Linked DNA regions of Homo sapiens. The protein of the gene in region 1 purifies or fractionates together with the protein of each later gene. This does not show direct contact. Each region holds a gene or a part of one and is shown in the gene's direction. Other genes may lie near its edges.

Evidence for each region.
Region 2: the proteins of SYCE3 (region 1) and KNSTRN purify together in Homo sapiens (co-immunoprecipitation; 3 studies listed by BioGRID and IntAct, with this or other methods). This does not show direct contact.

Annotation. Positions count from the first base shown.
Region 1 is NC_000022.11:50,560,791-50,564,541, reverse strand, and holds the start of SYCE3 (synaptonemal complex central element protein 3), read left to right. Parts: upstream 1-1,622; 5' UTR 1,623-1,684; intron 1,685-2,463; exon of another isoform or gene 2,464-2,749; intron 2,750-3,751. UniProt on the Homo sapiens protein: Major component of the transverse central element of synaptonemal complexes (SCS), formed between homologous chromosomes during meiotic prophase.
Region 2 is NC_000015.10:40,385,683-40,389,333, forward strand, and holds part of KNSTRN (small kinetochore-associated protein), read left to right. Parts: intron 1-679; coding exon 680-812; intron 813-1,476; coding exon 1,477-1,524; intron 1,525-3,651. UniProt on the Homo sapiens protein: Essential component of the mitotic spindle required for faithful chromosome segregation and progression into anaphase.

The DNA of each region.
Region 1 (3,751 bases):
CTTTGCCCTAGATGGGCCTTCTGCCTGGAATCCTGTGCCCTTTCTCCTACTCTCTCGGAAGCTGTCTTCCTTAGCCATCAGAATTATTCCTGATTCGGGCCAAGCACAGTGGCTCACACCTGTAATCCCAGCACTTTGGGAGTCCGAGGCGGGTGGATCACCTGAGGACAGGAGTTCGAGACCAGCCTGGCCAACATAGCGAAACCCGGTCTCTACTAAAAATACAAAAACTAGCTGGGCGTTGTGGCATGTGCTTGTAATCCCAGCTACTAGGGAGGCTGAGGCAGGAGAATCACTTGAACCTGGGAGGCGGAGGTTGCAGTGAGCCGAGATCGTGCCACTGCACTCCAGCCTGGGCAACAGAGCAAGACTCCGTCTCAAAAAAAAAAAAAAAGAATTATTCCCTATTCATGTTTCTCTGGGCTGCTGTAACAGAAATCGGCTCTGGGCTGTATAAGCAAATGGAAGTATGAAGAGCAGCTCACAGGTGGAAAGGGATGGCCAGAAAACCGGGTTCAACCGGGGCAGGAACCTGGCAGCTGGCGGAGGGAGTGTGGCCCAGGCAGCAGCCTCCTCAATAAACAAGCGAATGCTCACTCCTTGCCCAGAACTGTCTGGCTCAACCCCAGCCATTTTTCCTCCTCTGCAATCAGGCTGCTAAGAATCAGAATCCCTGAGAGAAAATTCAGGGGGTCTAAGGTTTGTCAGGATTCTCAAACACAAGGTGTTCAAAATCAAAGTTAACCTTCCAAGCTAGCTTCTCCCACTCTTCCACATCTCTGCCAGTGGTATCACCCCGGCCATTAGCCCCTTGCTTCTTTCTCCCTCCCTCCCACATTACCAAGCCCTGTCAAGTCGACCTTGGAATGGCTTTGACCCTGTCCACCACTCAGCCAAACAACAGCAACGGCCGGCCCCGTCGCCACCCGCCTCGGCAGCCAGAGACCTTTTAACTCTGCCACTCGCCTACTTACCACCCTTCTAGGGTGCCCACGTCCCTCTGAAAAAAAAGGCTGAGCTCAGACTGGCCTCTGGTCAGCCTCCTCCCAGCCAGAGCTTTCTGTCACTGCCCTTCTAGGTGTTGAGTGGCTCTGCTTCCAGTTCTTGCCTGGAGACCAGGAGCGCCCGGGAGGCCCCAGCACTTTCCAGCCCACATAGACCTGCGTGCACCTCTGCCTCGTCTCCCTGAGCCCGGGCTGCCTCCTCTGTAAGATACATGCCACATAATGTCCGCCACACATGATCGCTGTGACAGTGGAAATAGCTGGGCGTTCAGCGACTCATTCGACAAATGTTTACCAGCACCTTTGGTACCGGGCGCTGTCCTGGACACTGGGGACACAGCAGGCAAACGGGGCCCTGCGTATAAATCCTTAAGCTCAAGAAGGAGGTGGGGGCAAAACTGTCAGGCCGGGAAGCTCTTCATCTCCGCAGGATTCTCCCTCAACCTCAGGACGTCCCCAGCACCGCACCTGCCAGTCCCAGACTCGGACGCCGCAGACCTGTGGGAGCAGCGCGGAATGCCCCGCCCCTTTTCCCGAGGACACCCAATGAGGGCGAGAGGTCACTTCCGGGGAGGGTTCGCTAACGGAAAGGGCGGGGCATCCCTCTCGAGGAGCGGCCTTGTTCCTCAAGCGGCCGCTGGGGGCGCCAGAGCAGGACCGGAGCGCGGGCCAAGCTGGAGGTGAGCGAGGCCGCGCCCCCCTGGGCCCCGGCCCTCCCAACGCGCCCTGACGGCTGGGCTCCGCCTGACCCTGTCCTAGCGTTCGCGGTGGCACCAACCTCAAGCCAGACCCTTGACTTCGACCCAACTCCACTCACCCGACTCCACTCACTCCACACCCCATGCCCCTCCCCCGACGCCCCTCACCCCGCCTCACCCTTCACCCCTCATCGCTCACGTCACCGCTCACCCGCCTCCTCACCCAGCCTCGCCCCTCACCCCTCACCCCGCCTCACCCCTCACCCCGCCTCACCCCTCACCCCTCATCCCGCCTCACCCCTCACCCCTCATCCCGCCTCACCCCTCACCCCTCCTCACCCCGCCTCACCCGCCTCGCCCCTCACCCCTCACCCCTCCTCACCCCGCCTCACCCCTCACCCCTCACCCCGCCTCACCCCTCACCCCGCCTCACCCCTCACCCCGCCTCACCCTTCACCCCTCACCCCGCCTCACCCTTCACCCCTCACCCCGCCTCACCCCTCACCCCTCACCCCGCCTCACCCTTCACCCCTCACCCCGCCTCACCCTTCACCCCTCACCCCGCCTCACCCCTCCTTACCCCGCCTCACCCGCCTCGCCCCTCACCCCTCATCGCTCACGTCACCGTTCACCCGCCTCCTCACCCAGCCTCACCCCTCACCCCGCCTCACCCCTCACCCCGCCTCACCCCTCACCCCTCCTCACCCCGCCTCACCCCGCCTCACCCCTCCCCCGCTCCCCTCACTGCACACTCCATACCCCACTCTCCCCACCTTACATCCCTCACCTCAGTCCTTCACCCCCTTAACCTAATCTCCATGTCCTCACACCATACACTCCTGATCCTGAAGTCTGCACACCCTGGGCTTCTCATTCCGTGCAGCCTGCCCCTCTTACCCTCACACCTGCCACACCTGGGACCCCGGAGTCCACACACCACCTCACACCCCAAGTTCCCACACGCACCTCTGGCTTCCTCCACCTGCACTTCAGGACCCGCCCAGACTCTTCATAGCCCAACTCCAAGACTTCTCTCCCACATCACAGGTGCATTCCCTTCCTGTGCTGCTCTCATCCCGTACAAAAGAGCACATCTCTGCACCAAGCATCCCTCTTATCCCCTCACATTCCTTGTTCTCAGAGGGATCCCAGACTCTGTTAGAAACTCTTCGTACCAGGCAAGACACTCAGACCACAAACCAGACTCTAGGCTCTGACTCGCTCAACCCCCGTCCTTCACACCTAAAGTGATACCCAAGCCAGACCCTACACTCCCGCCCCACGCTCCCGCCCCACACTCCTCCCGCCCCACGCTCCTCCCGCCCCACACTTCCGCCACCCATCCTAAGCTCCGTTCCATTGTGCTTTGGTGCGGGCTCAGGCCTCTTTCTCCACCCGTTCCCAGTCATCCCAGGCAACCTCATTAGGCAAGAAATGCCGTGAATTCTAATCCTGTGGCTGCTTCCTCCACATCAGCTCTCACACCCTCTCCCTGGATCTCCTTTTCAGATCCATCCCTCTTCTGAGATCCAGTGCCACTCCGGCCCAGCCTCCATCCTTCTAGCAGTCTCATGCTCTATCCCCAAATCTACCTGTGGCCACCCCAACGCCCCACTTATAGAAACTACATGTCTTTTCTATGCCTCTGCTTCACCCCAACCATCAACCACCCCTTAAGCCACTCTCATACTTGTGCTCTCAGTGTCCTTACCTTGTCCATCCACTGCATGTATGTTTACGTTCCCAGGCCTTCTACACTCCATCCACTGTCTCTGTGCCGTCTTAGGGTCCTGAGGACACTGTGGCCATGTGGCCTCAGTCACATGCCTAGGTGCCCCTAGGGAGGCATGCAGCTTTGATAAAGCTTTATCGTTCTCCTCAAACCAAGAATGTCTGTTGTTACAAGAAGAAACTTTTCATTGCCATTTATTAGGGAGTTAGAGACCATCGGGCCTGAAATCCCCCCCTTGCCATCCTACCTTGACCTCTACCTACCTTATTCTATCTCTACCTCCTTACCTTCCCTTACCTTCATAGGGTGAAATGACC
Region 2 (3,651 bases), on another chromosome or scaffold:
ATGCCTTAGGAGAGTGTGCAGAGTGCTTGGAGGAGCTTAATGAGATGGTACAAGGATTCAGGCATGTTTTACCTGCTAACTTCCACCCTGCTCTCTGCTGGTGTCCATCTCCATGTTCACTTTTACAGCCTACACCTTTCAGTTCAATGAAACTTTTGGCTACCCTCAAACATGCTGTACTGTCACGTTTAAATAATTTTGGTTTTTATTGCCAATTAGCCTGGAAGTTTTATTCTTTTGAATTAATCTTCACATGTTGAAATTTGCCAGAATGAAAATAAAGATTTGGCCAGGCATCGTGGCTCACGCCAGAGTGGCCAAGGCAGGAGGATTGCTTGAGCCCAGGAGTTCGAGACCAGGCTGGGCAACATAGTGAGACCCTGTCTCTATTTTTAAAATTTTAAAACATATTTGAGGTGCCTATAGTCCAGCTACTCGGGAGGCTGAGGCAGGAGAATCGTTTGAACCCAAGAGGTGGAGGTTGCAGTGAGCCAAGATCACACCACTGTACTCCAGCCTGGGCCACAGAGCAAGACTCTGTCTCAAAAAAATAAATAATACTTTTTAAAATAAAGTAAAATAAAGATTTATGACAACTTCGAATGGGGCTCTGTTTGTTACAGGGTTGCAACTGTCGGGTCATGATGCCAGAAGCTTTACCTCTCATTTTCCTTTGCAGACACACAAACTCGGGCCACTTCTAAGAGTCTCTTACCTGTTAGGTCCAAAGAAGTCGATGTTTCCAAACAGCTTCATTCAGGAGGTCCAGAGAATGATGTTACAAAAATCACCAAACTGAGACGAGAGAATGGGTGAGAACGGATCATTAGTATCCAGTTAGAACATCTTCCTAGAAATTGCTCAATACAAAGAATTAGAAAACAGAGTTTTGGACAACACAAGTCTCCTGAACAACTGGCCTTCAATCAGTGGCCCAGAGCAGTGCAGCATTGCTGAGCTCTGTGCCAGAACCCTCTGTGTTGATCTTTCTGAAGAGACACAGCCAGAGTTATAAGAGGTGTTCTTTCCTCTTTCATCGCTTGCTCTGAGCATACAAGTGGCAGCACTGTAGTCATACAGCAACCCTGAGGGGTAGTCATGCAGGGTGGGGACTAGTTGTTATCCTAGGTTGCTGCTCTGACCACACAGTCCAGCCCTAGTGTGTGTGTATGTCCCCAGCCAGCAGTCAGTTCCAGGTGAGTGAGGTTGACATGAGATAGCCACGCCATCTTGAGAGGAACAGCTCTGTCAGGTTGTTAGGGTGGTCGGAGGCATGCCCCTTTGCTACTAAAAAGCCTTTTCAATAATCTGTGCCGAAGCAGTAATGCATAGTCTCTCAGAGCTCTTAAGCTTGTGCCATTTGCCTTTTATGTCTGGTTCTTTCCTCAGAAACTCAAGCTCTTTGTTCTGCCTGTTCACAGCACACTTAACAGTACTGTAAGTCTCTGATTCATTTCTTTGTTTCTGCCCTCCTAGGCAAATGAAAGCTACTGACACTGCCACCAGAAGGAATGTCAGAAAAGGGTGAGCATCAGGGTAAATCAACTTGGCCACTATTCTAGGGTAGTGGATCTCAATCCTTGGTTCTGCATCAGAATCATTTGTGGGACTTGTTTACTGTGTTAGGGTCTGGGTTCCACCTCAGGAACCTGAGTGGAATTTTCAGGGGTGAGGCACAGCTAGGTGTAAGAACCATTGTCAGTGCAAGAATCACTGGTGCTACTATCTTGTGTCTCAAGCAAGAGCTTTTTGGACTCCACGCCAGGACCACTGCTGATTGGAAATCACACTTAGCTATGGCCCATCAACAGGAGGGTAAAGCCTTCAGGAGAGGAAGGGCTGGGTGTATGTAGTTAGTGATCTCGAGATGAAGATTCTGGTGGTGGTGGTGGTGAAAACCTGGAGAAGGATTCATGTCTCATCTTTGAGGCTAGTTTGGAAGTTTTGCACTATCAGAAATAGAAATAATAAGCTGAAAAGTCTGTACAAATAGGTTTTAGTTCCAGATCTATTATTTGGGCATATCTTAAAAGTTTTGAAGACAGCAGGGCACACCAGCTCACACCTGTAATCGCAACACTTTGGGAGGCCAAGGTGGGTGGATCACCTGAGGTCAGGAGTTCGAGTCTAGCCTGGGAAACATGATGGGACCCCATCTCTACTAAAAATACAAAAATTAGCCAGGCATGGTGGCGCATGTCTGTAATCCCAGCTACTCAGGAGGCTGAGGCAGGAGGATCACTTCATCCCGGGAGGCAGAGATTGCAGTGAGCCAAGATCACGTCATTGCATTCCAGCCTGGGTGACAGAGCAAGACTCTGACTTACAAAAATAAAAAAGTTTTGAAGACAAAATACTAGCAAAAAAGACTGAGAACTTTAAGAAAAAACTCTAATATTGGTTGCTGAGACCAGCTTGGTCGGGGAGACCCTAACCCAGCGGCGCTAGAGGAATTAAAGACACACACACAGAAATATAGAGGTGTGAAGTGGGAAATCAGGGGTCTCACAGCCTTCAGAGCTGAGAGCCCCGAACAGAGATTTGCCCACGTATTTATTAACAGCAAACCAGTCATTAGCATTGTTTCTATAGATAGTAAATTAACTAAAAGTATCCCTTATGGGAAATGGATGGGCTGAATTAAAGGAATAGGTTGGGCTAGTTAACTGCAGCAGGAACACGCTCTTAAGACACAGATTGCTCATGCTATTGTTTGTGGCTTAAGAATGCCTTTAAGGGCCGGCGCAGTGGCTCACGCCTGTAATCCCAGGATTTTGGGAGGCCGAGGCGGGTGGATCTCAAGGTCAGGAGACCATCCTGGTTAACTATGGTGTTTCACCGTCTCTACTAAAAATACAAAAAATTAGCCAGGCATGGTGGCGGGTGCCTGTAGTCCCAGCTACTCGGGAGGCTGGGGCAGGAGAATGGTGTGAACCCAGGAGGTGGAGCTTGCAGTGAGCCGAGACCACGCCACTGCACTCCAGCCTGGGCGACGGAGCGAGACTCCATCTCAAAAAAAAAAAAAAATGCCTTTAAGTGGTTTTCCGCCCTTGGCAGGCCAGGTGTTCCTAGCCCTCATTCCCGTAAACCCACAACCTTCCAGCATGGGCATTAGGGCCTTTATGAACATGTTACAGTGCTGCAGAGATTTTGTTTATGGCCAGTTTTGGGGCCAGTTTATGGCCAGATTTGGGGGGCCTGCTCCCAACAATTGGTGATATTAGAGTTTATTAGATGATAAACTAACATTAGATAATAGCCCAGCTACTGGGCTAAGAAATGCACACGTGTTTTCTCTCTTATTACTCATAATAATAATACTATGAGATGTGGGTATTGTCCTGATTTCAAAAATGAGGAAACAAGGCCTCAGGGAGGTTATGCAACTCACTGAAGGTCATATACCACTGTGTAATAGCCAGGATAGAATGGGACGTGTTTGTGTAACTCTGTAGGCCGTATTTTTCTTTCTTTTTTTTTTAGACGGAGTTTTGCTCTTGTTGCCACCCAGGCTGGAGTGCAATGGCGCAATCTCAGCTCACCACAACCTCCGCCTCCTGGGTTCAAGCGATTATCCTGCCTCAGCCTCCCAAATACCTGGGATTACAGGCATGCGCCACCACGCCTGACTAATCTTTTGTAATTTTAGTA